Regions from separate parts of the Homo sapiens genome. Here region 1 is linked to region 2. Evidence: fine-mapped expression QTL. A gene starts in region 2. The other region holds a variant in brackets. All regions are shown on one strand. Distances are from middle to middle.

Region 1 (5,376 bases), 62 kb after region 2:
TTTCAGAGACATGGAATTCCTTCTAATCCCTTTTACTAAAACTGAAAAGGTGAATTACCAGAAAGAACATTTCTAGAATTCACCTGAGGTCTGAGGGTTCAATTAACAGTTCTTGCAGTCTACGCCACAGCCTGGGGCTTATTGGCTTGACACAGGAGAGGAATGGCCAAGACATGGCACCCAGTGGGCCAGATGCCTGAACAACCAAAGAAGGAAAAATGTGGAAAAAAATCCAGCTTCACTGGAATAGAGGATACAAGGCCAGTAGGCCCTGAGCTCCTATTTAAAAGGATACCCACAACCTCTGGCATATGTATTTGATGACCAGTTACCAAGGAAATACACTACTGGAAATACACCAGGAGACAGAGGGAAAAAACACTCTACCTTCTTGAACCCTTCCAGAACACCTTTCAGGTTCTCATATCTCCTGAAGAGATCAGAAAGGGACCTTTCCACAGAGTTAAGGTCAGCCAGGGCCTGTTCCTTCTCCATGGTCAGTTGCTGGAAGCTCTTCTGAGAGGTCATACTTGTCCTTTGTTCATCTTCTGGGAATCACAAGTCAAAAGGAATGACATATTTATTCAAAAAATAGACACTCCTTAGAAGACAAGCAGTGTTCTCGTGGTAGGGACACAGCCGGGGATGTGACCAAATTCCCGCTCTTATGGCTTATACTCTAGTTGGGGGAGACGCGTGGTAACAAGTGATGGGGAAAGAACAAGGCAGGGTAAGGAGGAATGGGGGCGGGGAGGGGGCTGTTACTGTACAGAGAGTACCTGCTCTCAGGGAGAGATCTGAGCATAGACCGGACAGAAATGAGGATGTGAGCCATACAGCTACCTGGGAGAATATTCCATAGAGAAGAACAGCTGTGGTAAGGCCCTGAGCTGGGAAGGCATTAGGTGATGTGGATGATAGAAAGTATCATTTCGGCAATTTAGTGGAGAAAGGACAGACTCTGGTTTAGGGAGTCAATCCTTATGATATAGATGAGAAGAGACTCTAAATTCCATGCAGGAGGATCAATCCCTGTTGTTTTGTAAAGGCACCGCTGGGTCTGATGCAGAGAAATTACAATCTGCACTAGAGTAAGAACCCTGCACCAAAACACAGGATGCTCCCAGTGGGTGTTAGTGATGTGACCAGGCCACCAACAGTCACAGAATTCAAGGCCTGCCATCTTCTAAAATGAACCTAACTACAGTTGACCCTCATTATTCACCAAGTCCATACCTCCCAATTCACCTACTTGCTAAAATTTATTTGTAATCCTAAAATCTATCCTCCTGGACTTTGACAGTCATTTGTGGATGTGTGCAGAGTGCAAAAATGCTTTAGTCACCTGATATGCACGCTCTCAGCTGACAGTGAACAAAGCAATACTCTGCCTTCTTGATTCATTCTATAAACAAGTGTTCTTCTTTTGGTCTATTCAGGCCATGTTTGTTGCACTTGTGTTCTTTTTGCCGGAGACTTCACTGTTTTAAGTGGCCTCCAAGGGCAGTGCCACAGTGCTGTCTAGTGATACCAAGCACAAGAAGGCAGTAAGGTTCCTTAAAATACATACATTACAGAAGCTCTGTTCAGACGTGAGCCAAAGTGCCGCTGACTGTGAGCTCAATGTTAATGAATCAACTATATATATTAAATAAGGTGTCTTTAAACAGGAACACACGTAAAACAAGGTTATATACTGATCAATCAATGAAAATGTTGTGGCCAGATGCAAGACTCTAACTCTGTCTTTTCCCTAGGAGCAGTGTTTATTTACTTATTTATTTTTTGAGATGGAATTTTGCTCATTGCCCAGGCTGGAGTGCAGTGGCACGATCTCGGCTCACCATAACTTCCGCCTCCCAGGTTCAAGCGATTCTCCTGCCTCAGCCTCCCGAGTAGCTGGGATTACAGGCATGCACCACCACGCCCAGCTAATTTTGTATTATTAGTAGAGACGGGGTTTCTCCATGTTGGTCAGGCTGTTTTCGAACTCTCAACCTCAGGTGATCCACCTACCCAAGCCTCCCAAAGTGCTGGGATTACAGGCGTGAGACACCATGCCAGGCCAGGAGCAGTGTTTAGTATTCACTAACTCAGTGTTTGCAGCAACTTTACAGAACATACCTCCCACGAATAATGAGACGACTGTATCTAAGTGACAGACAAATACAAGTTTGTGACATGGTCTGAAAATCATAAATGGATCCGGCTATGGTCTTATAGTTTATGCCACCCCCCAACCCCAAATTTGTGTATTGAAACCTAATCCCCAGTGTGTGAGTATGTTCAGGGTGAAAGTGGGCATGGAAGGGAATTTGGGAGGTGATTATGTCAGGATTAGTGTCCTTATAAAAGAGACCCCAGAGAGCTAGCCAGCCCCTTCTATGAGGAATGGGCCCTCCCCAGACATCTCATCTGTGGGCACCTTGAACTCTCCTGTCTCCAGAGCTATGAAAAATGTTTGTTGTTTATAAGCTACCTAGCTTACATATTTTGTTATACCAGGCTGAACAGACTAAGACAGATCCTATGGCTCATACCCTCAAAAAACAAAATGTTCTCCTTACCAATCATTTGAGCAATAGTCTTTTCATATTCAGCTACAATTTTCCTAAATGAGAAAAAAAGAACTTATTACCAGAGGAGGATTTTCAGACAATGAAAGTTGGAGAAATGCTGTCCCAAACAATTAAACACATTAACATACACTGACAATGTATGTAATCCATTTATCTGCTTTGGGGCTCTCGTTATCTTTTTTTTTTTTTTTTTTTTACATTATATAAGGTTTCTTAAGGTTCTAAAAAGGTTTTTGTTAAGATTTTATCTTTAGTCAAACTTATATTTTACTTATAGAACCAACTGCCTTCCCTTTCTCTTTGCACCTATTTGAATACTGCAAGGAAATAGATTCAT[T/C]CTGCTTAGATGAGTCAATCTTTTACAAACTAAGTTAAAGATATTCTTCTGGGCTCTTCCTAACAGATGCGATCTGACTTTAGACTTTCCTGAGTCAATCCACCCTTTCAGACACTCTACCTCTGATTCAGTGACAAGTTTTATTTTGTGTCCTAATTCCAAAAGTATTTCACTTATTCAAAGACTTTAAAGATCAACCTCTTGGGTTAACCTTTCTTCTAGTGAAGAATGACAATGTCCTTCTGACCCAGTCCGGTGCTGGGTGCTCTGTGAGTCGCATCACGTCCTCCCCTGCCCTCAATGGTGGTGCCCCCATCACTTTTGACGTCATATCCAAGTTGGTTATTATGGATGGCTACCGCTCTCTAAGAGCAGGAATGTCCCTTCCTTTCCATCAAGCCCAGCAAAGGGCCTTACACCTAGGAAATGCTTAAAAGACAAATAATAAAAGAGCAACAAATTAGAGGGATATACTTAAAATGTTTTTTAATCATTCAAGTGTTGACCACACTGTGTGTGAATTATTTATGCCTTTTTTTCTTCTCTACTTTGATTTCATCTTTAGTCATTTCATGGCTCATAACTCTCCTTTCTAAAAGTGAGGAAAAATAAAAAGATTTCGATTTCAAGTCAATCAATTTTGTTTCTTGTTAACAAGCTTTCTATCATCTATTTGGTGGTTATGTAATTTGAAACTCTCATGCATAATTAATTTTTAAAAAGTATTATGGACCAGGCGCTGTGGCTCATGCCTGCAATCCCAGCACTTTGGGAGGCTGAGGCAGGTGCATTGCTTGAGCTCAGGAGTTACAAACCAGCCTGGGCAACAGAGCGAGACCTCATCTCTAAAAAAAATTATGCAGGCATGGTGGCACATGCCTGTGGTCCCAGCTACTTGGGAGGCAGAGGGGAGAGGATCAGTTGATCCCAGGAGGTTGAGGCTGCAGTGAGCCATGATCACACCACTGCACTCCAGCCTGGATGACAGAGTGAGACCCTGCCTCAAAAAAAAAAAAGTAGTATTATGAATTTCAGTGTCTCTATCATTGGATAAATCTTATTTTTCTGTATTCCAAATGGATATTTTGATACAAATTTCTGTCAGTTCTAAGAAGATAAGAATTATGTGGGTTCTGTTTACATGTTATATGTTCTGAACAACCCAAGATAAACTACAGTATTTGAATATAATAACTGGTTAGCAATAACTCCTGAAATAACATTCTCAATCACAAAGCAAGGTGCAAACAGCAAAGCCCTCAAGCTCTCAACACTTGGTTCTGTGGCAAGCAAACACTGTCATCACTTCATCTGTATCAAATCTAACAGTGCATAAAAGTATCCAGCCCCTCCCCAAAACCTCCAGTCTAACCTCATCTCCAAAACTTCTTGCCGGGTCTCTTCGTATTTCTTCTTCCATTCATTTGCTTCAATCTCTTTAGTAATTATCTAGAGTACAATAAAGCTTAGTTTTACCCAATCTATTACAATTTGCATTTAAGACTGGGAACTGAAATAGCACACAACCAGGTCTAACCCAAGATGTTCAATCTATATTAGAAATATAAACTTCAATATTAAATGTTTGTAACCATTTGGAAAAGTGTATTCTAAGCCACACTGAATGCTGGGATGCAGACACGGGAATAAAGATGAGTAGAACATCTCTCAGAAATCCCAAGTAGTATTTACAGCCTCTGTGAACTTTACCTTGGTCCAGGGTCTAGCTCTCAGCTCTGCAGGGCCAGGCCCTGACTGGGACAGACACCAAGAACAGAGCCATCTGATTGGCAGGTATTCACTCTTAACTAAGGCCATGTAATCACGGCTGATGCCAGGCCACCAGAGTGAAACTGCCACAAAGTCAGACCACTGGAAGTTGGCATGAGCAACACATTCTCTTTCTATAGAGATTTCTGACAGCTTCATAGAAATGGAGTCAGAAGGAGGGGGCTCAGATGAGCTGGCTACATCTAGCTATAGCATCCGTCACTTATGGGTAGAGTCTTGCTAGTTAGCCTGGAACCTAGGCTCATATTTGGGATGCTCTTGCTAACTGGAAGGAAATACTCTAAATTCATTGCCTCAAACTCTATTTGCCCTGGGCTGGGCTTGCATGGGCAGCCTCTTACTGTACTTCCCTGGCCGTGCCGCTCTCTTCCTAATTGGTAGTTTCATTATATTTATTAGGATCTCAAGAACATAGAAGGATGTATCCTGTGTGCTTCAGGTAATCAGGCACCTCTTTACTTTGATCCATTAGGTGGTGATCTCATAGTTTAACTCCCAGGAAAAACATCAAGTCATTTTTCTCATTTACAAGATTTTGGCCAGGGACAGTGGTGCGTGCTTGCAGTCCCAGCTACTCAGGCAGCTGAGGCAAGAGGATCGCTTGACCCTAGGAGTTCGAGGCTGCAATGAGCTATAATTGTGCCACTGCACTCAGCCTGGGTGACAGAG
Region 2 (5,376 bases):
GTGCTGACTCCTTCTTGGCCAGGCTACCCTGAGAGTTAACAGAAACCTAGACATGCTCGTCAGTTTCCAAGGCAAGCTGCCTCTTGATCCAGCCATGGGCAATCATACCAGCAGAGAGCTGCTTTGCAAGGGGCCAGCCAAATTTGAGTCCCAGCCTTCGCACTTTAACTGCAGTGCTTCTCAAGAGCATAAGGACAAGAGGACCCAGCTTCCCATCCTCTTCATCTCAGCTGACCAGGCACTGTGGGCAAAAGGCACACCACAGGGCCAAAGCCCCCAAGCCTTTTGCCCACACTGGGCAATATCAGGAGCCCCTGCCCCAGCAGGGCTGGGACCTCCACAGTGAGAAAGCCCAATTCCGGCTTTAATGCATAACAAATCACTTCAGTCAACTGGGGTCAGGGCAGGGAAGGGGCTTTCAGAAGGAACAGTAGGGTCTCACTACACCAACCCCCGGCCTCCTCTACTGACAGGATGGGGCCGCATCCCTCCCACCTCTCAGCTGCCCTATCTCCCCCGCCTGTCCAATACCCCATCTCAATAATGGGCTCATATCAGGCAGGGCCAGGGTTCTTCTCTTCCCATAGGCCAACACACTATAATATTTGCTTTCCTTCCTTCCTTTCCAAAGCCTACCAGATTAGATTGCTGGAGTCCCATCCAGCTCACTGAGACAGATGGAAAACGGAAAGTAAGGCAACCCAAACTGTTCATGGTGGAAAAAGAGAGGGGGCAGAGCAACCCAACGTCCCAGCACCCAGATCCTCTTTTCCAAGCCCTAGGTCTATCACAACCGGAATAAGTCGAGCCACAGCAGTTTCCGTGAATCAGAAGAGATATTCTGATGCACTGTGGTCTGCAGCAAGCTCTCATCTGAGTCATCCAGCCTTTCAGCAGGGGCATCACCCACCTGTCCATCTGTCCCATGAATTGGACAGGAGACCAACGCTGCTTGGGTCTTCCTAGTATCCTAGCACTTCGGCAAACACTTGGCAAGGTAGTGGGAGGGCTGCTCTGGGGCTCAGCTGATAGGGCTCATCAGCCTTCCCCTTCCCACTTCTGCAGAACAAAAACCTGCACCAACCAAAACCTGCATGTCTTCAAGATTTATTTTAACCACTCAAAAATACCGAGCTGAATATGGTTCAGCTCACTACCATGACATGATGGGATCTGCAGGCCCTATTTCCTTAACACAGAAGAGAGAAGAAAGCACCAATGACAAGGAAAAAGAAAGGGTTGCAAAAACTCTTCACCAAAGGGCAGGCAGTTTCTCAATCAATACCAAGGTAATTACCAATCTGTGAAATGAGCAAGGCTCCCATTACCAGCTAGCTAAAACCCCACTAGGAGTGCCATAGACAATTTGTAGAAAGCATGCTGTAATGTACAAACAGGGTCAAAGGATACTTAGGTGTAAAGGCAACATCCGGACTAATAACTCCCATGTACCAGCTTGGAGAACCAAATCCCTACAGGTTTGAGGAACAACCACACTGCTCTTTTCTCTGCCATTTGGACAAGTGCAAACAATTCATGTGTTTGCATTCATTCATTAATGCAATAAACATTTACTTAGCACCTGGTACATGTCATACGTTGGGCTGGCCATAATCTAGACTACAAGCTAGACCTCTGATAGTGCAAAAGTCATCTGCCTTCAGGCGGCACATGGTGAAGAGGGCTAATGTCTGAGATGATGATGATGCTTTCTAAAAGCTTACTCTGGCTTCTCAAAACAAGTGGGGGGCTTACAAGTCCTGTAAGCTCGCCAAAGACAGGGTCCAGCCCTCCAGAGGTAAAGGAAAAAGAAAAAATAAAGACAGGGGTTGTGTTTTGTTCATCACTGCCTTGCATGTATAATACATGTCAACTGAATGCAACTGAAATAGAAAGCAAAAACTTCTATTCTTTCAAGATCTTTTGCTTTGCTGTTTCGGAAGGCTTCGCAACCAAAGAAAAAAAATGACAAAAGAAGGGAAAATGGGACTTGGTCAGATAGATTAAGAACACCATTAGTGCAATCTTGGGACTTCAGCCCCAAGTGCATCTACAGCTCAGCCTTCAGAGCCCCCAGAGCCACAGCTGGCTTTCTGGTGGGGTGCTCTCCCCTCCCTCTTCTCTGCCGTTTACTGTCCTCTGAAAACCCCACTTGGAGCCCTAAAGAAAGAAAGGGGGCGGGCAGGAAGAAGGAATGAGAAGGGGAAGATACATCCTGAACCTGCGTTCACCAAGAAGGAAGGAAGCCAAACCCTAAGGCTAGGGCCTGGGGGCAGGGCTGGCCCCGGGGAGGAGATGTGAGGGTGCTCCGGCCGCAGCGGGCCCTGCGCCCCTCTCTGGGCGTGCAGGGACACTTTTCCCTTCTAAACGGCCTAGCTTCCCACCACCCCCCCCCACACCCTTCTTTTCTCTTTCTTTTTAAAAAAATTTTGGTGAAATCGTCTTTAGGACTGGAGGAGAAAAGGGAAGCGTGTAAGGTGAGGAAGAAGTTGGTGAGAGAGAGAACGACAGCTCCCCTCGAGGGCTCACCCAACCTGGCACCGAACCTGCATTTTAGGGCAGTCCTTTTCACTGTCTGGAGTTCCAGAAGCCCGAAGTCCAGGCTGCACCCAGAGGAAAGGACAGGAGTCCCTAGGGGAGCCTTCTAGGCCTGTCATTTAATAAGGTAGTCGGGGGAGTGAAAGAGGAGTCTCCATGGCCCAATCCGTACCCAAGGGACTTGCCTGGGGACGTTCTCTGCTCTCCTCCCCTCCCGCAGCCCGGGCAGTCGTTGCGGGGTCGGTGCCCCAGCGCCAGAACCCGCAGAGAAGTTTCGCTGCTGCAAACGTGAGAAAATGCAGCTCAGCAGAACTCCCGCCCCCACCCTCTCCGCGGCCCCACCCCCCGCAGCCCGACCCCTGGCGGCGGCGACCTTGGCCACCCGGGGCACTTGGAGGAGGGGCTGCCCTCGGGGCTCTCCCAGAGGGTTGGAGGAGGCCTCCAGGGTCTGCGGCCACCTCCCCTCGCCTGTCAGCCACTAGGACCGGCGTATTCAGCCCTGCGCGCGCGCCCCTCGCGCCCCTAGGCCGCCAGGCCTCCGCCGGGGCGCCCCCTGCACCCCCAGCCCCGCCAGCCCCCGCGCGCCCCTCTGCGCCTCTCCACTCCCGAGCCCGCGAGGGCGCCCAACTTACCCCCCCGTGCAGGGGCCGGGGCTCGGGCGGGGCGCGTTACATCGGGCGGGGTCGCCCCTCCGGCCGCCGGGTCCGCCGCGCTCCAGGGATTTCTGGGTCTGCCTGCCAAACTCTCCGCGCCTCTCGCTCCCCTCGCTCTGGTCTCCCCCAGTGCCCCCTCCTTCTCTCCCGTCCCTCGGCTCTTTTTTCCGGGTTAATTACGTTTCGCATTAAAGCAAAACCCAGCCCCGGATGTGAGTACAATGCTCCGCGGAGCCCGCCGGGGAGGGAGAGGGGTGCCGGGGCGCCGCGGGCTGGGAGGGGGTGCGGCCGGGCGCCGGGGCCGCGCGGGGGAGGCGGGGGCGGGGCGCCCGGAGGCTGCGCCCGAGGCCGCCCGCGTTCCGCGCCTGGCAGGTGGGACCTGCGCGCCGAGACTGCCCCGCGGGGAGGCCCGGCCCCGACGCTCGCTCGGGCAGCAGGTGTCCGGGCAGGGGGCGTCCTCGCAGGAGGAGGCGAGCTGGAGCGCGAGCTCCCTCAAGAACCCCATTTCCTCCTCCCAGAGCCCCACCCAGCGACCTCAGCTGGGCCTCCTTCGGATCCCGAGCCCTTAGCCTTTGGGGACCGAGGAGTTGGGGTAAGGGTTAGGGTCCCAAGAAGAGTGGCTTCTTCAGGTTGTCCTAAATGTGCCCTAAGAGACCAGTGGGCGGGAACGCTCTAACCAGGGTTATAAGGACTTTAATTTCTTTATTTTATTTTATTTTTTAATCAAGACAGGGTCTGGCTCTGTCGCCCAGGCTGGAGTGCGGTGGCGCAGTCATAGCTCACTGCAGCCTCGACCTCCTGGGTCCAGCGATCCTTCTGCCCCAGCCTCCCGAGTAGCTGGGACCACAGGCGCCTACACCGTGCCCGTTGGGACTTTTTCGGTGTGATGCGAAGACTCCCTTCCTGCCCCCAGAGCATGAGGGTGCTCTGGGAAAAAATGGGAAACAGACAAGCATGTGTTACTACGTAAACCTCGCCAAGAGGAACTAAGAGAGCTGCTGTGCGCGGGTCCCGCCCCTGCGCTATCTCATTTGATCCACGCCGCAACCTATGGGTACCAGTCCGGTTCACGGTGAGGAAACCGAGACTCAGACTTGTGAAGTAATTTGCCCTGGGTACCCAGTTAGTAAACGGCAGGTCTGTCAGGTTCTGACTCCGGCCTCCCACGTCGGGAGAGAGACATTTGAATATGCATCAAGTCAGGTGGACAACATCCGAAACATGAAAATGTAGAAGATTCGCGCGGGCCTGCGGGGCCGTGCGCCGGTGTCTGGCGATCCTAATGCAAACGTTGTTAATCAGGTGTAAATCCTACGAGGCTTTGAAAGAGGCAGGCATAAGAAGACGCTGAGGTTCTCCAGGACAAGGACTGGATTTGCAGGAAGGAGGGAGAGGCTGGGGCACATTCCCGGTGTTAACAGAGGAAAGGCGGCCTCTTATGTCTCCACGACCGACCGGAGGCCACAAGGCCTGGGGAGGGGGGCTCGGGCCGATGAGCCAGGACCGAGGGAGAAGGACAGCCCGCCCCACACACCCCGAAAGCACCAGTGATGAAACCACACAAGTTTCCTCTTCCATTTTGATTGCCAAAGCAAAAATGAACACCGCCGGTGTCTCAGGTGTGAAAAAAGACTGTTTGCTTTAGAGCATTTTGCTTTCAATGAGGAAGAAAAGGGGGACGATGGGCAAAACACACACACACACACACACACACACACACACACACACACACACACACATTTCCCTTGAAATAAATACATCAATGTCTTTTTTTTCCCCGTTCATGGAGGGTTTTGCCACTCATCTGTAAGTTTCAGGCACCAGAACAAACTGAAGAGCATCTCCTCTGGAAGCAAGGAACCTGGATTTGAAGCCCAGCTCTGCCGTTTACTGGCTTTGACCCCTGGGCAAGTTACTTAACTTCTCAATGCCTCTGTTAGGAAAAGTCAGTGAGTTAACATTTGTGAAGTGTTGAGATTCCTGTCGAACGTGAAGTAGGTGCTACGTAAATGTTTTTTAAATTTAAAAATTAGATGATCATTTTCAGTATGAAAAGCAACACAATTCCATCCAGCTCCAAGCAAATCCGACTGGAACTGAGGGTTTCCAGCATGAGCAATGAGGTAAATTTCTCAGATTTCAGGGTATGGTTCATATTAAACTCATAAAACTCTACTCCCCGTGG

Evidence for each region.
Region 1: its variant is fine-mapped to the expression of PLEKHA2 in whole blood (INTERVAL, PIP above 0.99).

What each region holds. Positions count from the first base shown.
Region 1 is chr8:38,837,459-38,842,834 of GRCh38, reverse strand. TACC1 (transforming acidic coiled-coil containing protein 1) reads right to left here. Exons shown (of 13, transcript NM_006283.3): 8 at 4,289-4,365; 9 at 2,568-2,611; 10 at 388-548. Among named protein-coding and RNA genes, the nearest start is that of TACC1, 53 kb to the right of the region's middle. The variant T/C (reference allele first, on the strand shown) is at 2,917.
Region 2 is chr8:38,899,240-38,904,615 of GRCh38, reverse strand. It overlaps PLEKHA2 (pleckstrin homology domain containing A2), which reads right to left and starts at 3,270. Exons shown (of 12, transcript NM_021623.2): 1 at 3,171-3,270. LOC124901937 (a long non-coding RNA gene) reads left to right here and starts at 3,171. Exons shown (of 2, transcript XR_007060893.1): 1 at 3,171-3,403; 2 at 3,920-5,366. RefSeq lists silencers at 2,599-3,268, 3,349-3,758 and enhancers at 4,359-4,608, 4,669-4,858.